4 linked regions of the Homo sapiens genome follow. The protein of the gene in region 4 purifies or fractionates together with the protein of the main gene of each other region. This does not show direct contact. Each region holds a gene or a part of one and is shown on either strand. Other genes may lie near its edges.

Region 1 (4,843 bases), about 45 Mb from region 4:
GATAAGAATAAATGTGCATCCTTTTAGTAGGCTTAAGCCATGTGTTTTGGGCAGACTTTTTTTTTTTTTTTGAAACGGAATCTCGCTCTGTCACCCAGGCTGGAGTGCATGCAATGGCACAATCTCAGCTCACTGAAACCTCTGCCTCCCGGGTTCAAGCGATTCTCCTGCCTCAGCCTCCTGAGTAGCTGGCATTACAGGCATGCGCCACCACGTCTGGCTAATATATATATATATTTTTTGTATTTTTAGTAGAGATGGGGTTTCACCATGTTGGTCAGGCTGGTCTTGAATGCCTAACCTCAGTGATCTGCCCACCTCAGCCTCCCAAAGTGCTGGGATTACAGGCGTGAGCCACTGTGCCCTGCCAGACTTTAATGTTTTTAAAAGTGCGGCGCTTTTAGGGAGATGAAGGAAATGAACATACTATAAATCTGCAGGCATTTAAACCCCTCTGACAACAATTAAGATGGTGCATTCACAAAGAAGCTTTAAATCAAACAACCCATAACACTTGATGTAGAAAATGTTCCAGCTTCCATAATTCTTTATTAAATATTTGACAAGTTGCATCGCTTCTTTACAATGACTTCATTTTGTCACATTAGTCTTTTGCTGTCAGGAAAACAATCTACAGTTTCTCTTTAGATCTCTCAAGAAAAAAGAAAAGCGAAAGGATTGTTCTTCAAGAAAACTTCCTGTGTGTATCAAATTCAACCATATTTTAAAGCTATTCTGACTGTGAAAATGAGCATTATTCATAAGTTGCCTTAAAAAAATTCAAGGTAGTTTGGTTTTTACCACTGTATCAAATAGTACTTGGCTTCCTATTAGGAGGTGGGTTTATAATAAAAAGTTATGAAACATTGATAATTTATTTGGAATGCTTGAAACTCTTTTCACCTTAAAAGTCACTGTTTTTTTCATGTTTCATTTGATGATAGATCCTGAATTAGGAAATGACAGCAAATTAACATCATCTTCCTAGGGTTTTCTTAGGCTCCAAGGGTTGAAATTCACAGGACACAGCTTGGAGAAAACTGCAGAAGGGACTAAACTCTCACCTCCTTTCGAAACCAGATTACTCAATAAAGGTGTAAAAATGCTATACAAATATATACAAATATATTTGGACAGCATATGTACGTATATATGTATATATATTACATACAGAGTAGTAAAGGAAGAACAAAGTCACGCAAAGTTAACATGAAGGAAACCGTGACAATCTAGGTGAAATCAGTCTGAGTAAAAGGGGAAAACTGGCTTACACGGGAACACATATCTGCAGACACAGAGTTATGGTCACGAGGAAGGCTTCTGATGATGCACTGGTACGGGGTTGAGAATGCAGTGCACGCGAGGTTAGGCGCCAACAGCAATGCTACTCCTTACACACAGAAAACCAACGAACGGAAAGACGTGCCTTTGAAACATGCGTTGCTTTCAGTGGAACATCTTTAACAAACAACAGATGTTTAATGAGGTTTGCTTGGAAAATTTCATGCCAACAGGAAGCTAACCCTTTTCTAGAAAACGTTCTCCAAGCTCCCGTCCTAATGCTGTGGCACTTTCTCTGACATACTGAGAACACTCTGGGGTGGGGGTGTGTGTATGCAAATGTATAGACACTGTTCATTAAGGCTTATATAAATTAAAAAAGTGGTCCAAAGAATATCACATTTTTCCCCAGTTTTAAAATCTAAAGTACAAAGTGGAGTTTATAAGGATTTGTTTTTTAAAAACACATCTCAGTCCTGAAATTGGCAGTTCTGACACGACTTATCAGGATGTACCCCAATGCCTGAATGACAGAGGTAGTGATCTTCGGGGTCAGGGGAGGTCAGGAAGGGAGCAGGCGGGCAGTTACCCTGCACAGCGGCACCCTCTACTGGCGAGGCAGCAAATGATACCAGACAGCACCTCCCACCTCTCCCTCTTAAGTACAGGGGTGCAGGGCCAGGGTAAGGAGGAGACAGAAGAAGGAGAACTAGCACAGTGTCACGTAGGGGCTGCAGAACTGATTAACCCAGGCTCTCTTTATACGTTTTTAAATTTCAGAGGTGAGTACAAGACTCTCAGAAATACAGGAGTCGACTGTTAATGGGTAACTGTTAGAATAATTAAAAAGTTGCTGTGTATGAACCTGGCTTTCGGGAGGACCAGTGTGGATCTGGCAAGATAGCAGCGGTGCACACTCTCTATGCAACAATGGGAGATGTAGAAAATGGTTCAAATGTTTTGCATGCTGTTTCTCAGAATCTGTCACTGTGAGGCCGGGTGCGGTGGCTCATGCTTGTAATCCCAGCACTTTGGAAGGCTGAGGCGGGAGGATCACCTGAGGTCAGGAGTTCAAGACCAGCCTGGCCAGCATGGTGAAACCATCTCTACTAAAAATACAAAAATTAGCCAGGCGTGGTGGTGGGTGCCTGTAATCCCAACTATTCGGGGAGGCTGAGGCAGAAGAATCGCTTGAAGCCAGGAGGCAGAGGTTGTGGTGAGCTGAGATTGAGCCACTGCACTCCAGCCTGAGCTACAGAGCAAGACTCTGTCTCAGAAATAACAATAATAATCTGTCCCTTTGTCCTTACATGGGAGAAATAATACATGCCAAGTCGCTCTGTATCCCTCATTGTCTGAATTTAGGGAATATCTGATGTCACCTTCTGAAGGGTCCTGGAAACAAAAACCAAGTGTCTTACCTTTGTTCTTGAGATTTGTTAGAGGACTGGCTGCAGAGAAGCATAAACATTTCAGGCAAAAAGGAAAAGAGCACTGAAGCTGGGAATACACCGCAACACAGACAATGAATGCCTCACTGCTGCCGGCTCCAGGGCCAGCAGTGGAGAGGCACAGGCTGTTGGACCTTCATCCCACCAGGTGCTCTTTCCACATCCTTCCTCGGGCCAACAAGGGGCAGGAATGGAAATACCCGGGACCCACAGGCAGCTGTGATAACTGATGTTAAGAGAACCGCAACAGGCAGTGTGTGAGCTCCGGCACGTACTTCTCAGCCTCATGTAAGTGGCCCATAATAACTACAGCTTCAGCAGACAACTAAAGAGACTGCATTAAGGTGATTTCTCTGGCTATAAAGAGAGCCCGGCCTGCAGAGCAGTGTGACTGCTGGGACCTCTGGGATAGGCAACACTGCCCTCTCTCCCCCAGGGCTACTCCCCGGGCAGGTCGGGGCCCAAGGAATGACCCAGCAACTGCTCCTTACCCAGCACACTCTCTTTACTGCCACCTGCAATTATGCTGTGAAGATGACTGGGTGTGGTCATCACGATTCAGAGAAATCAAGATCTATGACCATTTTAGGCAAAGAGAGAAACTTGGAGAATTGCTGAGGACTACTGAACCTTGTTTTGCTTTTTTAAAAAATACTAAATCCTCACTTCAGCATATTTAGTTGTCATTAAAATTAAGCTGATATTATTAAGGGGTTGATGAACTGAGGTGTCACTCACAATTACTGCCTTCCAAGTATTCATGGGGTAGATTTCAGTAATTCTTGTTTGCTTCTGGCTTAGAAATTGTCAGAATGATTTTTCTTTTATACTTTCCAATACTTGACTTAATATGCATTTAGTGACATTCTGTTTTTTTCAATATACGGTTTACAAGATGACAGAAGAATCCCAGTTCTTAGGTTAGAATTGGATTTCTCCCTCTACAATTACACAATTACTCTCAAAAACCAAGAAAGCATACTGCTCGACTCAGGCTCTGGCATGATTCTTAAAAAGAAAACTGCCTCTAGACTATGGGGGCTTACAAAAAGGGGATTTTTGCCACTGAGACATTTGTCATGTTAACTGTAGCGGAAAACATCTCACCAATAGTCAAAACTCATGAGCGGGAATTTTTTTTTTTTTTTTTTTTTTTTTTTTTTTTTTTTTAGTTACATAGCATCTAAGTTTTCTGATCACTACCAGGTAATTTTCAACCAATAAGAAAAAGGAACCAACACTCAGCTCTGTAGAAATCTACCTTCTTTTAGAAACCTCAGGCCTCTGCACCCCTTTAGACAACTCATTTACAACCACAACCTTCCATGGCTTCTCACATGCCAGCCAGGGCAGGGTAAAAACGGCAATTTCTTACACCGAAAGGTCCTTTTTATGTAACAAACAGACCTCCCCAAACCACAACTTTTTTGTCCTATTGATGACTCGCATGAGATCAAATCTCTAGTGTCCCCTGACTGCCCCGACAGGGTCTAGGACAACACAGGTTAAAAAGGACAGCAGGGTCGTTCAACTCCCACACTGCCTCAGGTGTTTTCTCAAAGCACGACAATTCTGCAATGGAGACTTACACGTGGAAAAGAATCAAACTGTGCAGGTACCCTCAGTCCTCTGCCACTACCAGCTCAATAGCTTGAGCTCAGAGGATCAAGTCAAGTCTCTGTCTCACTTTTAATCTAGCACACAAGAGGCACAACTCAGGCAGTACACGGTATTGAAGCATGCAACAGGTCATTGGTAACAAAACTCAGTTAGATTAAGAGTACATTAAATAAATCTTTGTAGTTGAGTAGAAATCACAAAACAGTTGGTGAGGACAGGTCTGTAGGCTCAGCTTTACATCCAGGTTTTTATACACCAGCAGCCAGATTCACAATTGATAGATATTGCACCGGAAAGATGTGTGCAGGGAAAAGAAATCATCATCACATTTAATGTTCATGATAAAAAAATAAAAACAAAACCAGATATGACCTCCATGTAGTACATAAAGTGCCTTCAGAATTGGTGCATTTACAACAAAAACTGGTTATTTAGCTACCATTAGCAAACGCATACAAACAGGAGACTAAACAGATCTGGTTTCCACAGTT
Region 2 (7,029 bases), on a different chromosome or scaffold from region 4:
TGGCAAAAGCCTATCTTGGGAATGATTAGAGTCCCAGAGTCCCCTCCCCACCCAGTTCAACCAAGCAGTTGCCCCTTCCTAATCCCAAGCAGACTTTTAGTCCAGCACTTTGGGAGGCCGAGGCAGGCGGATCACCCAAGTTCGGGAGTTCGAGACCAGCCTGACCAACATGATGAAACCCTGTCTTTACTAAAAATACAAAATTAGCCAGGTGTAGTGGTGCGTGCCTGTAATCCCAGCTACTTGGGATAGGCCGAGGCAGGAGAATAGCTTGAACCTGGGAGACAGGTCATGGTGAGCTAAGATCACACCATTACACTCCAGCCTGGGCAACAAGAGCAAGACTCTGTCTCAAAAAAAAAAAAAAAAAAAAAAAAAAGACTAAAAAGACTTTTAGTTTCTCAACAGGTGAAACCAAACTCAAGACTTCAGGCATAGTTGACAATAGGGATAAGGCACCATATTGACCCAGCGAGACAGTGAAAGTCTACATTATAAACTGAAAAGGTCAATTTCCCCCACCCAACTCACCTTCCCGCACTTGGGTCCTAGCATACATGTGTACTTCACACCTAAATGTCAACAAACATTGCAGAAGTCCTTGGCCAAAAAGCCAGATATAAAAACAAACAGAGAGAAAAAGAGAATTGTTTTTCAGCAATTGACAAGCTGATCCTAAAGTAAGGAAATGCAAGGAACCCAGAATCGCCAAAACAATCTTGAAAAAGAACAAAGTTGGATGACTAACACTTTCCAATTTTAAAACTTACTACAAAGCTACAGTCCTTCAGGCTCTGTGCCTCATGCCTATAATCCCAGCACTTTAGGAGGCCCAGGCGGGTGGATCACTTGAGGTCAGGATTTCGAGACCAGCCTGGCCAACATGGGGAAACCCCGTCTCTACTAAAAATACAAAAATTAGCCGGGCATGGTGGCAGGCACCTGTAATCCCAGCTACTCAGGAGCTGAGGCAAGAGAATAGCTTGAACCCGGGAGGCGGAGGTTGCAGTGAGCCAAGATAGCACACTGCACTCCAGCCTGGGAGACACAGCAAGATTTCATCTCAAAAAGAAAAATAATAATTATTACAGAACTTTTGACAGGAGAAAACAACTACACATCAGATTAAGCTAGTGGCAGCTCCTGCAATACCTGAAGCACCTGATCACTTTTATCACCCTACCTCAGCAACAACCTTTCAGACCTGTCAATCTTCTGGAGGCTAATAAGCTGAACCACTCATTTGCCTTTGAGTGATCCAGAGCAAGTTACTTACTGAGAGGATGGAGAGGAAAAAGCAAACTCAGTTTCTTCCTGCTATACTCTCACAACACAGAATACTACCTTTTTTTTTTTTTTTTAATAGAGACAGGATTTCACTATGCTGCCCGGGTTGATCTCAAACTCCTGGGCTCAAGCGATCCTCCTACCTCTGCCTCCCAAAGTGCTGGGATTACAGGTGTGAGCCACCACGCCCAGCCCCACAGAATACTTCTGACACCAGATGTGTGGGAGCCCCACATACCAAGTAAGCAATCAATTCTGCAGCTGGCAGACACCAGCTGGGTGTCCTCTAATTCAGTTCCTACACTATCCACCTGGAAATAGCATCAGATCCCACAGGTTTAGTTCCCCAAGACTGCCCCTGACTTGCGACATCAATTGCAAGCTCCAGGTTGTTTTACCCGTGCTTCTGACCAACCGGCTATAAATCGAGGTTCTTAGGATTGATAAATTTGCTAGAGCAACTCACAGGACTCAAGGAAACACTTTATTTGCATTTACTGATTTATTATAAAGGATATTATGAAGGATACAAATGAAGAGACGTAGGGCGAGGCATGTGAGAAGGGGCACAGAGCCTCCAAGCCCTCTCTGAGGGTGCCATCCTCCAAGAACCTCCACGTGTGCAGCCATCCAGAAGCTCCCCAAACCCAGTCCTTCAGGGTTTTTATGGAAGCTTCATTACGCAGGCATGATCAATTAAGTCACTGCCACTGCAGATCAAGTCAACTTTCAGTCCCTCTCCCTGTCCCAGAGGCTGGGTGTGGGACTAAAAGTGCCAACCCTCTAACTACAAGGCTGGTTTCCCTGGCCACTGGCCCCCAAATCCTGAGACTATCCAGGAGTCCCCAACCAAAGGTCAATTATTAGCACACAAAAAGACACTGACCAGGTGTGGTGGCTCACACCTGTAATCTCAGCACTTTGGGAGGCCAAGGCAGACAGATCACCTGAGCTCAGGAGTTCGAGACCAGCCTGGCCAACACGGCGAAATCCCATCTCTACTAAAAATACAAAAATTAGCTGGGTATGACGGCATGTGCCTGTAGCCCCAGCTACTTGGGAGGCTGAGGCACGGGAATCGCTTAGAGGCTGCAGCGAGCCGAGATTATGCCATTGCACTCTAGCCTGGGCGACACAGCGAGATTCTATCTCAAAAAAAAAAAAAAAAAAGACACTGATCACTTGGGAGATTTCAATGATTTTAGGAGTTATAGGCCAGGAAATGGGAGGAAGACTAAATATATATTTCACAAAATCATACCTACCCTCTCTAAATCTCAGTTTTCTCATCTGTGAAATGAACCCAATAATAGTACTTACTTTATAAGATTACTGTACTGACTACATGAATTCAGGTAAAGCAGAGGACACACAGTAAGAGCTCTTCAAATATCAACTACAAACAAAACCACTTCTCGATACTGAAATTCTTGGCTCTGGCATTACAAGCACCTCAATTCCTAAAATTCTTGACCCAGCTCTGAGTCAAGAAACCAGTGAACACCGATCTTGAGATGAAAAGACCTGTGTAGAAGGAGCCAGGGAAAAGCAGAAATTACACACCAGTATCAATATTTTATTTCTTGTTTTAAAAAATTTTTTTCAATATAATCCATGGGTTCACAAAGATTTTATTTCTAATTAACCAGCTGTAGAAACAGGCAGAGCTTATTTCTAACTAGAGATAAACCTTGCACCCACTTCTATTTTTTTTTTTTTTTTTTTTTTGAGATGGAGTCTTGCTCTGTCACCCAGGCTGGAGTGAGTGGTGCAATCTCGGCTCACTGCAAACCTCCACCTCCCGGGTTCAAGCAATTCTCTTGCCTCAGCCTTCCGAGTAGCGGGGATTACAGGTGCCTGTCACCACGCCTGACTAGTTTTTTGTATTTTTAGTAGAGATGGGTTTCATCACGTTAGCCAGGATGGTCTCGATCTCCTGACCTCATGATCCACCCGCCTTGGCCTCCCAAAGTGCTGGGATTACAGGCGTGAGCCACTGCGCCCAGCCTGCACTCATTTCTTGAAAGATATGCAAGGAAAAGCTCTGTCCAAAAGATTCTCCTGTTCTTCACAGGCTCATGCTACTCCAACACTAATGCTTCTTTCTTGGCCTCCTTCCTCTGTCCAGCATTGAGTTACTACCTTCCATTCTCCAAAGGCCCATATTGAAAAACAATCAAACAGAATCAACTTTGCCAAATGACATCCTTACAAAGACTAAGCACGGAAAAAGAGAAAACGGGAGGGAGCAGGGAGGTACACTATTGGAAGCCCCGTGGAATTACAGGCTAAGAATAAAAGAGGCTGACTGGAAAGCAGATCTGAAGACAAAACAAGAAGCAAAAGGCATGGGTGACTTGAGGAAGAGGACGGGCCCTAGGTCAGGACTGCCATGTCTTGGTACTTGTTATTTTTTATTTATTTAATTATTTTTGAGAAGGAGTTTCGCTCTTGTTGCCCAGGCTAGAGGGCAGTGATGCAATCTCGGCTCACTGCAACCTCCGCCTCCTGGGTTCAAGCGATTCTCCTGCCTCAGGCTCCCAAGTAGCTGGGATTACAGGTGTCTGCCACCACGCCTAGCTAATTTTTTGTATTTTTAGTAGAGACGGGGTTTCTCCATGTTGGCCAGGCTGGTCTTAAACTCCTGACTTCAGGTGATCTACCCACCTCGGCCTCCTAAAGTGCTGGGATTATAGGTGTGAGCCACCATGCCTGGCTGGTATTTTCCTAATAGTTATTATTAGTAGTAATGATTTAAATCACTGAATATTTGCTATAAACTGCGGTGGGGTGAAAAACAGGGAACTGCAACCTTCTAAAAAGATTTTGGTTAGAATCTAACCTGTCCCATCATCCAGGGGAAACATCTTCCCTTTTGTTCCCATCTTTCAGAAATTCCAGAGCCCTAGCCAGTTGTGGTGGCTCACACCTGTAACCCCAAACACTTTGGGAGGCTGAGGCAGGAGGATCACTTGAGCCCGGAGTTCAAGACCAGTCTGAGTAACATAGTGGGACCCCATCTCTACAAAAAAGTTAAAAATTAGCTAGGCATGGTGGCACATGCCTATAGTCTCAGCTACTTGGAAGGCTAAGATGGGAGGATCACTTGAGCTCAAAAGGTTGAGGCTGCAGTGAGCCATGATCATGCCACTGTACTTCAGCCTGGGTGACAGAATGAGACCTTGTCTCAAAAGCAAAACAAATAAAGAAGAAAGAAAAGAAATTTCAGAGTCCATAATGTGGAGTCCTAATAAGATAAGTAAGCAACAACGAGGAAGGGGCCTCAGGTAGGGGAAAGCCATGGACAGTCGTTCTGAGAAATGATTAATCACAAACAGCCCTCAGATGCATCAATCCCCACATAGCCCCCTCCAGCACAACCCTGTAAAACTTCCCTCCATCTCCTGCCTCTTTGCAGACAGCCCCTTCTCTGCTGTGCTGCCCATTGCTTTCTTGCAACGTGTTTTCACTTTAATAAATCTGCCTTTCTTTACCTGGTAAATTCCCTTTCTGCCTGTGACACATAATAGTCCTAAGGGACTCAAAGTCGCTCAAAAGCAACTCACTGATTTGATTCCAAAGGGAGTTTATGTTTATATAGCCACTCCACCCATCTCACTAATGATAAGTGGTAGAAGGACCAGATGTGGACTCTGAAGACCAAGATTCAAATGGCCATCTCTTTCATTTCTTAGCTATCTGACCTCGTGAGGGTCACTTCACCTCAACAAGGTTAAATGTATAAAATGGTGGGATGCCTGACAAACAACATGCATTCAATACATGTTTGAAAAAACCAATACATATTTCAAACATAAAAAGCCCATTATCCATCCATCCTGGAGGCCTAAACTGGATGCCAACCCAGGAAGCCAGACTAATTCCAGAAATTGGCACTCAAATTGATTTCAGGGGTGCTATAAAGATGCACAGTTGGAAGAGTAGCCTCATTAAGAAAAAAGAAACCCATTAGCTTGTGGTTTTCAAAAAGATTAAAAAAAAAAAAAACAAAACCCCTATTCCAGTACTTTGGGAGGCCGAGGCAGGCAGATCACTTGAGGTCAGGATTTTGAGGCTAGCCTGACCAACCTGGTGAAACCCCATCTCTACTAAAAATACAAAAATTAGTTGGACATAGTGGCAGATGCCTGTAATCCCAGCTACTCAGGAGGCTGAGGCAGGAGAGTCACTTGAACCTGGGAGGTGAAGGTTGCAGTGAGCCAAGATCGTACCATTGCACTCCAGCCTGGGCAACAGAACAACACTCCAAAAATAATAAAGTAAAATATAGGATCCCTAGAAAAGCCTCTCTCTGAAGGTGATGGTTGAGTAAAGATCTGAGGAAGTGAGGGAAGGAAGGGGCCATGTGGCTGAATAGGGGCTTAAGGGTCCAGGCAGAGTTCAAAAGCCCCAAATAAGGAGTACCACTGGCAGGTTTTGGGACCAGTCAGGAGGCCAGTGTGGCTGGAGGGGATTGAGTAAGCAGGAGTGGAGAGAGGAGGTCAGGGTGGTGGTGGGTGTGGGAGGAGAGATCAGGTCATGGAAGGCTTGCAGGCCATTGTAGGGTATTGGTTTTCACTCCAGTTAAGCTGGGACAATTGGAGGGTTTGAGTTGGGCAGTGGAGTGGACAGGATCCACCCTGCCTTTTAACAGACTTGCCCTGGGTCCTGTGTGGAGAAAGTGAAGGCCAGCCAGGGTGGAAGAGGGAGACAAGTTAGGAGGCTGTTGCCATCATCCAGGGGAAAGATGCATCCAGGGTGTACTCTGAAGTACAGCCAGTAGGCTTTGTGGACGAGCTGAGTTGGATGTGGGGTGTGAGAGGAAGAGACGAGTCAAGGGTGACTCCAAGGTCTTTGGCTTGAACAACTGGAGGAATGGAGTTGTCATTAACTGAGATGGGGAAGGCTGTCTGAGGGGCAGGTGTAGGGCTCAATTTTGTTGATGTTGATTATAAAATGCCTGATAGGAATCCACGTGAAGATATTGTGGGCAATTAGATCTAGAAGTCTCGAGACAGGCCTAGGCTAGACACACATATGGAAGCTGTTAGCATGTGGATAGTATTTAGAGTTAAGAGACTGAGCCAGGTGCAATGGTTCATGCCTGTAATCTCAGCACTTTCGGAGGCTGAGGCAGGAGGATGTCTTGAGGCCAAGTGTTCAAGACCAGCCTGGGCAAAAGTGAGAACCCCCGCCCCCAACTCCCCATCTCTCCAAAAGCAAGACGGAGTCTCACTTCATCACCTAGGCTGGAGTGCAGTGGCGCGATCTTGGTTCACTGCAACCTCCATCTCCCGAGCTCAAGCAATTCTCGTGCCTCAGCCTCCCGAGTAGCTGGAATTAGACACATGTGCCAACAAGCCCAGCTAATTTTTGTATTTTGGGTAGAGATGGGGTTTCACCATGTTGGTCAGGCTGGTCTTGAAATCCTGACCTCAAGTGATCCGCCCGTCTCAGCCTCCAAAAGTTCTGGAATTACAGGCGTGAGCCACCGCACCTGGCCAGGATCCTATTTAAACTGCAACCTACATCCCTCTTCCCTGCTTTATTACAACATAATACATATTATACTTAGTTATCAATGTGCCCTTCTCTAATAAAATTGAAGATCCACAAGGGTGGGGATCCTTACCTTTCTTGTACTGCTATATTCCTGGCATTCAGAACAGGTTTGTCCAATAGAAATAAGATGGGAGCCACAAGTGCAAGCCACATTTATAATTTTTTATTTTTCTAGGAAAT
Region 3 (7,811 bases), on a different chromosome or scaffold from region 4:
CAGGCGAGAAGCCTCTGGTTTCTCTTAAAGGAACACTTCACAACAGAGAAAGCCACCTGGTTAGAGGTTACACAGATACCAACCATATAGACTTAACAAGCATTTTGAATGCAAGATCATTTCATTGATGTGTAGGCACATATTAAAACTGGGAAGATCCCAAAAGCCACCTCTCCTGCAAAACACATTCATCTAGGAGAAAACGCCAAAGCATCTGTCCTCAACTACAGGTAACAACCTTGGTTTCTTTGCCTTTGGCTGAAATCAGTGTTGCAAAAGCCTTTTAAAAGAGTAAGAAAATATAGGTTTTTCTCCCAAGATCACATTGCCCAAGTGAAACAGAACCAGTGCTTACTTTTATTTTTTGTCTCCTGTTCAGAGGGGTCAAACATTGCTCATAATCTTCATTAAATTTAGTCCTGTGGCTGGCAAATGTTAATTTACTGGAATATTTTCCTTCACATTCATAAAGAGGGAAAACTAGCTTTGTGATCTGGTTGCAATCTACACAACACATAGATAATCCACAACAGTGGTAGGCGCAGAAAAGCTCCAGCTGGTTTATCTCAAATGTTCAGAATGATTTTGATTTCTTTACCGACACCACAGCCATTCATAAAGATTCATTGCCAAATGTTGCCCAATACCGTGATAGAGGCGATGGTGAAGCGAATGTCTTAGACTGGGAAATCATCATGGTGCCCAAACCTCAGAGTCTGCGGCCAAATGGTGGGGATTTGGAAATCACCTGTCACGGAGATGGTGAAGGAAACTGGATTCAAACTAATGAAGACTAAAGTCTTTCCAGCCAGAAGACGGTTTGAGTCCAAGGGGCCATTTATATACAAGAGCTAAGAAAGGTGCAACTGATTTTCCCCCAGAAGCAGCACGATTATTTTTAAGTTCAAAGACATTTTTGTTAATAAACTGCTTCACACAACCACATCGAAGCCAAAATGTGCCAATGAAATAATCAAAACAAATAGCTCAATTGGGACTTTTTGAATGTTCAACAAAAAGAAAAATTAAAGCTGGTTAGACTGCTGGATAGTAACGTTACAGTGTCTCCTTTAAGAGATCAAAATGTCTTTGCCACCCTCCACCCCACCCTACCCCACCTCTAATAGTGAAGTGGATAATTTCTGAAGAATACAATGACCCTTTATGCCTGGCTTCTCTAGTCTGCTAGGGATGCCATCTGTCTCCCACGCTATATAAACAATCCCCGCAGGAATCTTCTGATGACCAAACAGATTAGCAAACTCCAGATTTTCACGCCATTAATAATATCCCCATCCAGATTAGGCCTTTTATTTTAATAACTCCAAAGATAAAGTCAATAACTGATCTTTCTTTCTTTGTAGATAATGTGTGTGTCATTTTAAAGATAACCTCTTGGAACATACAGCCATCTGTTGGGAAGAGAAAGAAAAAAAGCTCTCTCAAAGCAACAGAAGAAATGAACCCTCGAGGGAATAGGAGAAATAGTAAAAAGAAAATCATATTTATAAGACAAACACATGGAGAGCTCTACTAATTACACTAAAATATTCTTCTTCTAAATGACAAACTATAGAACACTACTCCAGAAAAGACAAGTTTCACACTTTCACAAAGGTATATATATACGAAAACAGTTTGCGTGAGTCTAGGACAGTGAAAGCAGAAATCATAACCCAAAAGCTAAAGGCCCCCGAAGTTTGCATGCTGTCCACCTCTATCTGTAATGATCACAAATGTTTTCCTTCCTGAAGTTTAATATCGATTGAACCCTTGTAACTCTAATTGTGAGCTCTCTGTACTGACTCCAAAGACTTCTAACTCTAAAAGAAATGTGCCTGTAAAGATGTTCTCTAAATTAATAATAATAAACGACGAAAAGCACCCGAGCGCTGCTAATAGTGAAGACAAGGCATGAGAGAGTCAGACCTCTGCAGTCTCGCGTCCTCGGAAACGTCTACGTCTAAATCTGCAGCCCCAGTTTGCTCCAGGCCCCAAGCTCCAGCAGAGGATGTTCACGGCACATTCCCAACCAAAAAGGAAATGAAGCGTCCTCTCCCTCAACTGATGCTCAAATAGACCCCAAAGTCCCAGTTTCCCTGGAGAACCAAACCATCCAACACATCCTGGGCAGCGGAAACCGAAATGGCAAATGAATGACCGCGCCGGGGCGCAAGGGAGGAAAAACAAAGCCACCTCCCGCCGTCCGCTACCTGCGGCGAGGGCCGCGCGCTCACCTGGGCTTTGCGCCCGTCGCCACAAGCTGCGGGTGGGGACCCGGCCGCGGGGCGGGAGGGCGCCCCCAAAGTCGCCCGGACCCGCGGCCCCGGCGCCCTGCGGCCGGTCCGTGCGCGCCGAGGAGAAAGCAGGCGGCCGGGGGCGCCGCCGCGCGTTGCATGCAGCTCACGGCTGCTGCGGCCGCTGCCACGGAGCCGAGAGTCTCTGCGCTGCAGTCCCCGACCCCGAGACCGCGAGAAGCGCCCGGAGAGACGCGGCGCAGGGGCAGAGCGCGCTCGGCGCGCCCCTCAGCGGCTCTTCCCGCCGCCCTCCGCAGCGGGCTGGGTCTCGGCTCGCCTTTGTGCTGGCATCTTCCTAGCTCCCAGCGACACCCAGAGCTCTCGAGGCGGCTCCGCGCCGCCACCCACCCCCGGGTTACGCCACGGCCCCCGCGCGACCCGCCGATTGTGTCGAGTCAGCAGCGGCAGCGGGGACGCGCGAAGCCATGGCTCCCGCCCGCGCTCGGGAGGGCGCCGGGGGTCCTGCGCCTCCGGGAGGTTTGTGGCCGAGCGCGGCGCGGCCCCGAGCGGCCCCGCAGCGCCCGGCTCCCCGCCGCTCGCTCTCCAGGCGCCGACCCGCCTGCGTCGCCACCCTCTCGCCGCTCCCTGCCGCCACCTTCCTCCCGCCCGGGTGCCGGGCGTCCGCTCCAGCCGCGGTGCCCCGGTCCGCGGAGAGCGAAGAGTCCGGCCTCCTCACCTCCAGCCGCGCCGGCGCCCTTCCCGCTAGACGCTTCGGCGGCATCTGCCCGCACCGCCCTGCGGGACGCTGGGCTGGGAGCTGGCGGCACGTCGGGGACCGGTGGAAGGGAGGCGGGGGCAGAGGACAGGAGGGACAGCCAGACCTTGGCCAGCGGGACCTCCCTGAGGAAGGTGCGGAAGAACGGGGCGGGTGCGGCTGGGCGGAGGACGAGTCCCGAGGCTGCGGCGGAGCCTGAGTTGCTCTCCTTCTGCGAAGTCGAAGGACAGGAGGATTCCTAGAGGTGTCGCGGAGGGTGGAGGAGACCCTCTGAGGTCGTGCAGACAACACTGTTCCTCAACCCCACCAGAAAGCTGAATAGGGGAGTGTCATGCCTCGGTTTCCCCAACTGCAAGGGCAAGACGGTAATACTCATGTCGCACACACAGGGTGTGGTCACGATGAAAAAATGGATTATTGAAAGCGTTCCCAGATACTTTGCCTAAAGAGGGCACTAAAATTTAAAATTACTGTATTAATACTTTCGGCTTTCTGTTTACTTCTATAGCATCTTCATCAACCAGTCCCACGTAGGAGAAAAAGTAAAAATGCTAAAGTGTAAATATATTGTGTCCCTCCCCACCCACCCTTGCATCTGTCCAGATTTAGGGAAGATTTATTCAATTTTACAATTTAACTATATCCATATGGAGTAAGTCCCCAAATAATGGATAGCCATTCCTTTGGGACTTTTGAGTGTGTGCTCAATATTATCCATTTCTCCGCCTTTTCTGGTAACAGCAGTTCATTATTCCTATGGGAACTGCCCTTCCCCCTCACCCACAATGAGTCTTTGTGGCTCCAGGGTACTGACACCTCCCACCCTCAACCCCCAGAACTAGCCAGTCATCTTCCGGACCGCAGTGATCGGTTCTGGGTTGGGCATGTTGATCCAGGAACTCGGCCTAGGGCTTTGGATGTATTACTGCAGAAAAATAAGCTCTTTAAACTAGGATAACTAAATTGGAAGGATATAAGCCTACGGTAACAAGGACCAACAGTGCATGCCAATGAAGCCAACTTTGAGGGAAGAAAAGCTGCTGGTGAGAGGGTGATGTCCCACCCTCTCAGGAACCTCAGGAGGTAGATGTGTCTGCAGTGAACTCTACCCTTGAAGCCAATAAATCCTCTCTCTTTTATTTCAAGTCAGTGTCAGCTGTGTTTTGTCACATGTCTCAGAGGAGCCCTGACTTCTTAGTCCCCTGGATCTATCAGCCCAGGCATCACTGTTAGGATCCTCCACAGAATCAAAGAGCCCCACCCCACAAAAGGCCCAATTCCAGTTCTTGCTGGAAGAACAGGGATCCTAGAGGTTTGTTCCCACATGATGTTCTCCTTCACAACTTACTCAAATCCAGCAACCCCACACCTGCAATCCTTAGCTTCTTTGTGTTGATTAACCACTATGTTACATTCTAGTCAAAATGGGCCAGGTGCAGTGGCTCACACCTGTAATCATGCCTGAGGCAGGAGGATCTCTTGAAGCCAGGAGTTTAAGACCAATCTGGGCAACATAGTGAGACCCCACTAACACAGGAACAGAAAACCAAACACTGCGTTTTCTCACTCATAAGTGGGAGCTGAACAATGAGAACACATGAACACAGGGAGGAGAACATCACATCAGGGAGGAGGGGCCTATCGGGGGTTGTGGGGCTAGGGGAGGGATCTCATTAGGAGAAATACCTAATGTAGATGATGGGTTGATGGGTGCAGCAAACCACCATGGCACGTGTATACCTATGTAACAAACCTCCACGTTCTGCACATATATCCCAGAACTTAAAGTATAATACATTAAATAAAGAAAGAAATAAAAATAAAAATAGCCAGGCATGGTGGCCTGAACCTGTAATCGCAGTTACTCTGGAGGCTGAGGCAGGAAGATCAGTTGAGCCCAGGATTTCAAGACTGCAATGAGCTGTGATTGCACCACTGCACTCCAGCTTGAAGACAGAGCAAGACCCTGTCACCTTGTCAAAAAAGAAGAGGAAGAGGAAGAAGAAGGAGGAGGAGGAGGAAAAAGAAAGAAAGAAAAGAAAAACAGAAAAAGAAAGAAAAGAAAAGAGGAGGAAGGGAGGAAGGGAGGAAAGGAGGGAGAAAGAAGAACCCTAAAAATGAATAGAGGCAAAGTGAATCACTATTGCTGCCCTAGGTCTTAAAAAACATTTTTCTCTCACTTTAAAAGCAGCCCCTACTACCTTTAAAACTTTCTACATATCGACCATTAAAACCGAGACTAAGGCATCAAAGAACATTAATAGCAAAGTCATCCTAAAAATCTCAAACTTGCAAAGGTGTGTAAAGATTAGGTAGGTTCTTTCACACTGCACTCCCCGTTCGTCATCACCACCACTCTCCTTCACAAGATCTCTGACCGGGTCTCACTTATCCTCTCCTGGAGCCATTCCCTTAAAGAGAACTCAGTACTTTACAAGCTGGTCAATTCTGCATTGAAACTGGCCTGACATTAGGAAGTGATCCCTTATATTGAGTTGAAATATTTCTTCCACCTGAGAGTACTCCAAGCACTGAAGACAAACTTGTGAACCACTTGAATTGTCTCTTTTCCAAGATCTTTGCATGACCCATAAGTCATGCAGGACACATGGCAATGTGTCCTGACCCTTCATCATCCTAGGTTACTTCCTTTCTACAGATGTGCCAAGGTTTGTGACTGCTCCTTCTAAAGCATATGGCCAAAGCTAAACCCAAAGGCAGATTCCAAGAAACTTATACTCCAGCCCTCTTCCAACAACACAGAAGGAGCCTGAGAGACATGTTCATGTGGTCTTATATTTTTATAAAAGCTTCCAAAGTAAGATATTTTAATCTCAAGCGATTTGCAGTGGACTGAATGTTTGTGCTCCCCCAAATTCATGTGTTGAAATCCTAACCCCTAATGTGATGGTATTAGGAGGTGGGGCCTTTGGGAGGTGATGGAATAAATGCCCTTATAAAAGAAACCCAAGAGAGCTCTCTCACCCTCTTTCTGCCTCTTGAGGATACAAAGAAAAGATGGCAGTCTGCAACTGGAAGAGGGCCTTCCCACCCACATCACAACCACACTGGCACCCTGATCTCATTCTTCTGGCGTCCAGAACTGTGAAAAATAAATTTCTGTTGTTCATAAGCCACCCAGTCTAGGATGCTTTGTTATTGCAGCTTGAATTAAGACAAGACTGCTGTCCCTTTTCATTCTAACTTCCGTGTTGTCCTAATTCCCCTTGTTCCGAAAGAAGTGGAGTGATTGTGGACATTTGTGGGGATCTGGCTAAAGGGAAGTTGAATTGGTTAAGTGGAATACATTTATGTGGTCTGTGGGCATTAAAGTTGTGACAGTGATGTCTATTTTGACTGTGCAAAGACAGTCACTTGGGCCCTTCAGTGTTGTGACACAAAGGTAAAGGGATGGAAATTATACCACCAAGTATTAATAACTGCATACTTCAGCACCCAGCACAGAAGTATATGGGTAACGGGGTAAATGATGTTTGAAATGTATGTACGGATTCAGAACTAGAATATGGAAAACCCTCCCACATCTTATTGTTTATATGTGAAATAAATTTAATAGTGATTTTCCTAAATTTTGAAACAATCCTAAAAATATGTTACTTTCCCAATAATGCATTGTGGACTGAAAAGAAACTCCTCTAAACTATCAGTAATAAAAACAAATTTTAGTCAACTTTACTAGTGAAAACACTGGAATATCTATTAACTCTATAGAACATAATGTCACAAAATCATTTTCATATGAAGAATAAATCAAAGAGTATAAAGCCAAAATACGTAGGAAAGACATATCACAGAGGTATGTCAGGCAGTTAATTAATTTAAAGATCGTGGTATTTTTCTGTATTTGGTGATCTAATACTTGTAAGGTTGTTTTGTTGTTGTTGTTGTTGTTGCTGTTTGGTTTTTTTTTTTTGAGATGGAGTGTCACTGTCGCCTAGGCTGGGGTGCAGTGGCGCGGTCTTGGCTCACTGCAACCTCCGCCTCCCAGGTTCAAGCAGTTCTCCTGCCTTAGCCTCCAGAGTAGGTGGGATTACAGGAACCCACCATCACATCTGGCTAATTTCTGTATTTTTAGTAGAGACGGGGTTCAACCATGTTGGCCAGGCTGGTCTCAAACTCCTGACCTCAAGTGATTCACCGGCCTCGGCTTCCCAAAGTGCTGGGATTACAGGCGTGAGTCACCATGCCCAGCCTTATAAGATTTTTTGAATGTGCGAATTGTTGTGATTTTTTTAATTCTGGATATATATTCTTTTCAGTACCTCATTTTGTATGTATAATGTGTATTTTTTTTTTCTTAAAAAGTGTCTTGAATTGGGAGTTCAAGACCAGTCTGGCCAACATGGTGAAAACTGTCTCTACTAAAAATACGAAAAATCAGCTGGGTGTGGTGGCAGGCACCTGTAATCCCAGGTACTCAGGAGGCTGAGGCAGGAGAATTGCTTGAACCTGGGAGGCAGAGGTTGCCGTGAGCCGAGATCATGCCATTGCACTCCAGCCTGGGCAACAAGAGCGAAACTCTGTCTCGAAAAAAGAAAAAAGAAAAGAAGGGAAGGGAAGGAAGGAAAGGGAAGGAAAGGGAGGGGAGGGGGAGGGAAAGGTGGGGGCGAGAGGGGAAAGAGAGGGGAAGGGGGGAAGGGAAGGGGAAGGGAGGAGGGGAAGGGGAGGGGAAGGGGAAGGGGGGAAGGGAAGGGGAGGGTAAGAGGGGAAGGGGGGAAGGGAAGGGGAAGGGAGGAGGGGAAGGGGAGGGGAAGGGGAAGGGGGGAAGGGAAGGGGAG
Region 4 (6,993 bases):
TTTTAGTGAGAACTCAAAAGAAAAGCAATCCATTCTTAAATCACATGGATATGTGACAATACAGACATCATTTTCAATTCCTCCTGTGATGGAAAAAAATGACATTAACTGAAAATTCAAACCCAATATTTTCAGCATAATTAATAGTACAGGTACTAGCTTCAGTCCTTTCTCTGCCTAACAATGAAGCAAACAATGCCCCCCAAAAAATGTCCCTAAAAAGTGGCAGGTCTTGTGGCCTAAATTTTCAAATAGTAGACAGAACCTTTGCATTCCTATTTTGAAACTTAAGACTCATCTTCCATGTACACCCGTAATATAGGTCAAGATGTAATTCTAAACTAACACAGTTCATATAGGCAGAAAGTCTCTTTGACATCAGAAAATAATGGCTTCCAGGAGATTTTTTTCTGAGACCTAAAAAAAGGAAGGAACAGAGGGAGAGAGGGAAGGAGACAGAGAGGAAGGAAGAAAGAAAAGAATAATTTTGGACTACATAGCAATTTTGCCGCTATTCATATTTAATATCCATGTGCCGCTATACATTCTGTTAACTATTTCCAAAAATTTTTCCAGGTTAATATGGTGCGCTCTTCTTTTACAATGTTTTATCACTTCTTGAGGGATAACATTTTTCCTTCTCTACTAACTCTTACACAGGAAGAAGGACACATCATAGAGACTGGATAAGCCCAGATTCCAAAGAAAGATGAGAAGAAACATGGCAAGGACTACCAGAAAGATCAGAGCAGTCTACAATTTCAAGAATTCCTGCCCAGGGCCCTGAGGTGGCTTTGGTTTTACGTGATGACGTAGAGCAGTCACCTCCCACCCACCACAAGGAGACTTTATGCTGGCTACATGCAGAGACGTCAGGAGCTCAGGGATCTCTGCTGGACTGCCTGCCAGAAACCATGCACAAGGAGCAAAAGTCACTCTCCTCTGACTGTGCTTCCCTATCAGTCAGGGAGGTTACCCCTGCAGCAGCCCAGAGCAAAAACAGAGAGCGTCCCAGGAGCTATGAGGCTGGTCTGCCAGGCTGCTAAGTCAACCAAGACTACAGCACAGTCCCAAACTGTAAACACCTCTGCAGACGGGCCCTTGCTCTCCGCGTGCCAGGCAAGAAAACTATTCTTAGAACACTGTCAGCAGTTGGGGGAAAATAAATATTTGTCTATGTATGTATATACTCCAGTGGGAGTAGGGTGGGGTGCAGGAGTCTCAAATAATGTGCCAACAAATTGGCACAAAATCCCTTAATAAGCAGCTGGCACTGGCTGCGTTCCACTGCAGGATTGTGGTCTTGCAAACCAAGCCCATGAGAGGATTCAAGAGACAGCCCTAAAAACCTGCCGGGAAGAGTCTTCTCCAATGTAAATACAAACCTACACGAACCAGGACCATGGCCAACAATGGCAAGCCCTTCCAAGGGTAACAGCAGAATGTTAAGAAATTAGAGAGGTCATTTAAAACAAGGGAGGAAGGTAGCTACAATTCCATTACAGCAAATCCCTTACTGGCATTTACATTCCCAGCCCTAATTCCTAACACTGTGTTCAATGTCAATAGCAAAATGAAGCTCTTAAAAAGAATTAAGCTTTCAAAGATCATAAGGAAGTTAGCCCCCTGTTTTAAAAAGCACTGCTTAGAAAGGTCCATCAAATAACATTTCAAGGGTTGATGGGAAACCAAATATAATTCAATAAATATACATGGGTAATACTCAGACATCCTCATTTGTCTATGTAATGACTCAGATTTGACACTCTGATCCTTGACTGAACACAAAGACTATATTCCAGAAGAATTGTGCAGAGTACAAAGGGAGAGTTACAGATGACAACACACTCGAGTTAAAGACTAGAAAAGACAATACCATATACAGAATGCAGACATGACTTGATGCAATGGCAGTCTCCCTGTGCAGACTTTGCAGAACCTTCTCTGTCATTCAATACTCAGTCCTGAAGCTCCAGGGAAGATACAGAGAGGAGGATGCCATTCTTGGCTAGCCAAACCGGCAGAAAGGGCCGTTTTTAAAAGGAAGCTTCCCAGCACTAGCCCTTCGAGAAGGCACCAACCTCCTTACCAGCCATAGGACCCTATTTTTGAGAGTCAATGCTGCTCACCATCTCTATCCACCTCTACTGCAAATAACTTACTAATACTAGCGCTCAGAACCCACATTCTGTGCAGCTACTCTTACCTCACATCCTACAATGCCTAACACATAGTAGGCCCTCAATAAATATGTATTGCAATGGTAATTAACATTTAGAAAGCAGCGCTGGTCCGGGGATGAGAAGATGCCAAAATAATTAGAAAAGAGAAAAAGAGAAGGGAATAGACCAAGACACAGAGGAAAAGAAAAGAAGCAAATCAAAATTATCTAATTCTAGCTAATTAAAAAATTTTGGGGGAAAAACAAAAATCATGCTAGTTCATGCGGCTATGGGCACACAGCAACCATTCCTGTGCCTGGGCAGAGCTAAGGAGTCCTGCTTGCTTTAAAGAGCTTCTAGCTGCCCTGACTGGCGACGAGGTGTCCCTCCAGGTAGGTGACCCAAGAACGCTGTACTCTCGGATGCGCCTTCCCCCAGTGCCGCCCACCCACCATGCGTCCCTGTCGTCCTGAAAACCTCTGCCTCATCGGGAAACCTTCTCCTTTTCCAATTAAAAAAAAAAAAAAAAAAGTTTAAACAAGCAAATGCCCTCTCCGCCACGATAGCGATTTAACCTAAACCGAACCCACTGTCTTCCACCGGTGTACTCACAGGGCGCGCCCCCAGGCCCACCCGGGGCGGCGCACCGGGAAGGGGTCCCGAGGAAGCTTCCTAAAGGCTGTGCAGGGCAGACCCCTTCACAAAGGCAAGTGCCGGGCCGGGCTGGGTGCTTGTCGCTTCCTGTTTATTCCAAGGTGAGGGGCAGAGAGAAATTCAACACACGCCTGCTTCCTCCGGGGCTCGGAGACCCAGCCTAAGTGCAACAGCAGCAGCCCCAGACAATCGACTTCCCAGCCAATGCCGGGAGCTCCGGGCGGTCCCGCGACCGACGTCAACGCGCGCGGGGGGACCCGGGGGGACGCCGGGTGAAGCGGGCCCGAGGGGCCGGGGCCGGGGAGCGCGCGGTGCAGGATGCGGGACTGAGGGGCTGCGGGGCTTGGCCCGCCCCCTCCTTCCCGCAAACTCCCCGGTCAGGTCCTGCAGGATCTTCCCGCTTCCCGCTGACCTCCAGTCCCTGCCCGCCACGGCTCGCCGAGGCCTAGGGGCGCGGAGACAGTTGGGGCTGCCATCCGCGCGCCCATCCTGGCCTCCGGGCGGTGCAGAATTCAGTCTTGCAACCGCGGGACACCCTGCGCCCCAGGGCACCAGGAAACAGAAAACGGGGTGGGGGTCGGCGAAGTCCCTCCACCGGCGTAACCCCGCCCGCGGGCCAGCCCCGGATCCCCGCCGTGCCCACCGGCAAGCCCACCCGGACCAAGCCTCACAGACCTCGCGCGCTCGGCGCCCAGCTTCTCCCTCCGGCCCCAGCCGACGGCGCAGGCTCGCGGACGTCCAGTTCCCAAAGCGTCCGGTTCCCGAGTCCCCCGCCACCCCTCCCTCCGGAGCGCAGCGGTGAACTTGGGCCAGAAGCCCCGACCACTGCGGCCACCTCGGGTCCGCACTCACCTGGGCCGCCCCCCCGGAGCGGAGGCGGGGACTGCCCGCAGTGCGGCTCCGCGGCCACCGGCCCTGCTGGCCAGGGGGAGGGGCGCTGTGCGGGGCGCGGCAGGGGGCGCGCGGCGGGCCGGCGGGGAGCGCGGCGCGCCGGGGTTCTTTAAGAGCTGAGGACCTCACCCCCGGGCCTCCCCCGCGCTCCCCGCCCTGCTTCCACTTTCCCAGGCACCCGCAGCCTGTCTGGCTGCAGCGGCGGCAGCGGCTCAGTGGCTTGCAGGGGATCCCCGGCCGGCCGCGGCGGCGCGCGGAGCGGGCAGGGCCAACGCACTCGCCTGCTAATCCCGCCGGGCCCGGTCCGCAGCCTCAGCGCGGGGAGAGAGGGGACGCGGCGCTGCGGCCGCCGGGGAGGTGTCCCGCCTCCAGTCGCCGGAGGGGGGAGTGTCCCGCCTCCCGCCGCCGTCGCCGCCGTCTGTCTCCAGCCGTGACTGCGCGCCGCGGCTGTGTCTGTCTCCAACTCCTCCAGTCTCTCCTCCTCCTTCCCACTCCGCGGTGGGGACCCGGCGCGCGGCCAGGCCGCGGGTACCGGGGCCGCCGTGGCGGGGGCTCAGGGGTCCCCGGCTCACAGGCTGCGCCGACCCCTGCGGGGGGCGGGCCCGGAGGCCGGGGGTGGGCAGTGGGGGAGGCGCGCGGGCGCCGAGGCCGCGGGACCCGGGGCCGCACTCCCGCCCAGGGCTCGGGCCCGCGTGGCGCGCGCCCACCGCCGGCCGCACGGGGAACTCCAAGCCGAGCGCAGAGTACGCTGCAGGGGCGCCCGGAGGAGCCGGCTCGCTGCCCGCAGGCCGGGGGCGGTTTCGGGAGGCTGGGGGCGCGTTCCAGCACAGAGTACCTCGCGGGCTGCGTGTGCACCACGGGCCGCGGGACCTCGGGCAGCCGCCTAGAGACGTGCAGTCGGGCGGCAGGACACTTAGTAGGACGGAGCAGTGCTCGGCGAGCCTTGAGGAGCTTGAGGCGCCCCCGGACCCCACCTGGTCGCCCCCTTAGTATCCTGCCCTCTTTAAAGGAAATGGCTCCTGCCTAGAAGGTCAGATGGATTCTTCGCGCTGTGACCCTTTCTCCTTGAAGGACCTACACCTCCTGTGAAGACCATTTCGGACTTGACCTCCACCTGAGTGCAGACTTTGTTCAGAAGTACACGCATTGCCTCCAGCCACCCCTACCATGTTTGATGGGGGATTGGTTACTGCCAGAGCATATGAGCATTTTAACCCAATTTTATTGCAGTCACCAAAATTAGTTCGCCTCTGCCAAAATTAACCCCCCTGCAGACATATCAAAATACTACACTAAGCAGGGGTTTCAGGCTGGGTTTAAGATAGATGCAGCTGATTAAAGGAGTGAACATTTTCAACTGTCCCCACACACCCCCCAAAAAGTTGTCCAGTTCATATTTCCGTAATGTCAGAGAAATGAATCTTTTGAAACCTACGTTTTGTCTAATTTGTCAGTGACTTTTTAGTTAGTGAAATGTTGGCTGAATTCAGTTTCCCTTAAGCCCTCAGCTCTCAGCTATGGTGGTAATTGCCGCTAGCCTTTGATCAGTGCTCATATGTGATGTAATAATAACTACCATTCATGGAGCGCTTCTGTGCTAAGCGCTTTACATGGATTGTCTGATTGAGTCCTCACAATAACTGGGAGCTATTACTTCTCCATTTTACACATGACGAAGTTGAGGCTAGAAGGATTTAGTAATTTGTCCTCAGACCACAAAGAGATGGTTTTACATCCCTAACTAGCTGCATAGAAAGCTGGGAGCTGAACCAGCATGCCATACTGCCACCTACCTACAGCAGCGCTGACAGTTCTTCAGCTCAGCCCGCAAACCAGCCAGCATCTGCCCTGTGCCCGGCAATGAGCCCGCTCCAGCTGGGAATGCCCAGGTCCTGGTCTAACTGAGAAGCTTGTAGCAGGGGAACTTTGAACCTGGCTGCCTGGGTAAACTTTTTTAAATGAGCAATAAGCTGATAAGTGCTTCACACAGGTTATCCTAATCTGACAAGCATATACTTAGTTTATATTTAATGTCCACAAATGCAAAACTCACATGCTTTGGGGTTGGAGAAACTGTGCTCTTGCCCTCTTTAGGTAGAAAAAGAAATGACTTTTTCCATCTAAACGCCCCATGGACAATGAAGAAGAAAAGTTTTTCCAAAACCACAAAGCAATGCCTTCTATTTCACTTGCACATAATTTCTCTGTGTCTAACTTAACCGCCTTAAATTGAGGGCTGAATTTTAAAATCATAATCTCAATTTCTACCATTTGTGATGAATCTCAATCTCGTGTTGCCCTTTCTTATCTTATTTATAACTAGAAACTGCTGCGGCTCTGTATTTCTATCTCTAGAAAATATGGGAGGAACCTGTCCCTGTGTTTTCTTTTTTTTGTTTTGTTTTGTTTTGTTTTTTGAGGCGGAGTCTCGCTCTGTCGCCCAAGCTGGAGTGCAATGGCGTGATCTCGGCTCACTGCAAACCCCGCCTCCCAGGTTCATGCCATTCTCCTGCCTCAGCCTCCCGAGTAGCTGGGACTACAGGTGCCCGCCACCACGCCCAACTAATTTTTTGTATTTTTAATAGAGACGGGGTTTCACCGTGTCAGCCAGGATGGTCTCGATCTCCTGACCTCGTGATCCGCCCGCCTTGGCCTCCCAAAGTGCTGGGATTACAGGCGTGAGCCACCGTGCCCGGCCTGTCCCTGTGTTTCCTACTCAGTCCTCCCTGTATTTGTTTTCCACTTCAGCTATTCCCTCCCACACCCTTCCAGACACACACACTCTCCCTATAGCAATGCTAAGAGTTCGAGGTACTTAGATGTAAGTTTGCTCTCTGTAAAATGCAACATGATTCTACATCGGCTTCATCCTGACCATTCGCTCATTCCAAGGGCCCAGACTGAAGCGCAGCAGAGCGGAGACTTTGTTTTGCTCCGTTGGTGGAGAACTTGGACCCCAGTACACAGAATAGTGCCTGACACAAGGGGCTCAAAGGGTTTTTTGGAATGAATGGTACCTTAGTATTGGGATAGATGAGTAAACAATATTGAGATAAATATTACTAAAATTGGGTGGAAATCAACTGAAATTGGTTTCAAAGAGTGAGAGGTGAAAAAGATTATTTTTCACTGTCAATCCTTGCAGCCTGTCTCATGTCAATTATACCCTGGCCATACTTAGTCCATAGAAGTTTGCTAGTCAGTCATCTAAGGAGACATAAATAGAAAAGGGAAACATGAACGAATGTTGAGAAAAAGGGAATTTGAGGGCCAAGTGACCTCAAGT

The links.
Region 1: the proteins of LDLRAD4 (region 4) and NEDD4L purify together in Homo sapiens (affinity purification with mass spectrometry; 4 studies listed by BioGRID and IntAct, with this or other methods). This does not show direct contact.
Region 2: the proteins of LDLRAD4 (region 4) and WWP2 purify together in Homo sapiens (affinity purification with mass spectrometry; 5 studies listed by BioGRID and IntAct, with this or other methods). This does not show direct contact.
Region 3: the proteins of LDLRAD4 (region 4) and HECW2 purify together in Homo sapiens (affinity purification with mass spectrometry; 4 studies listed by BioGRID and IntAct, with this or other methods). This does not show direct contact.

What each region holds. Positions count from the first base shown.
Region 1 is NC_000018.10:58,397,217-58,402,059, reverse strand, and holds the end of NEDD4L (E3 ubiquitin-protein ligase NEDD4-like), read right to left. Parts: 3' UTR 521-4,843; downstream 1-520. UniProt on the Homo sapiens protein: E3 ubiquitin-protein ligase that mediates the polyubiquitination of lysine and cysteine residues on target proteins and is thereby implicated in the regulation of various signaling pathways including autophagy, innate immunity or DNA repair.
Region 2 is NC_000016.10:69,765,303-69,772,331, reverse strand, and holds part of WWP2 (NEDD4-like E3 ubiquitin-protein ligase WWP2), read right to left. Parts: intron 1-7,029. UniProt on the Homo sapiens protein: E3 ubiquitin-protein ligase which accepts ubiquitin from an E2 ubiquitin-conjugating enzyme in the form of a thioester and then directly transfers the ubiquitin to targeted substrates.
Region 3 is NC_000002.12:196,590,535-196,598,345, forward strand, and holds the start of HECW2 (E3 ubiquitin-protein ligase HECW2), read right to left. Parts: upstream 3,021-7,811; 5' UTR 2,974-3,020; intron 2,450-2,973; exon of another isoform or gene 1,930-2,449; intron 1-1,929. UniProt on the Homo sapiens protein: E3 ubiquitin-protein ligase that mediates ubiquitination of TP73. Acts to stabilize TP73 and enhance activation of transcription by TP73. Involved in the regulation of mitotic metaphase/anaphase transition.
Region 4 is NC_000018.10:13,214,770-13,221,762, reverse strand, and holds the start of LDLRAD4 (low-density lipoprotein receptor class A domain-containing protein 4 isoform alpha 1), read right to left. Parts: upstream 3,004-6,993; 5' UTR 2,775-3,003; intron 1-2,774. UniProt on the Homo sapiens protein: Functions as a negative regulator of TGF-beta signaling and thereby probably plays a role in cell proliferation, differentiation, apoptosis, motility, extracellular matrix production and immunosuppression.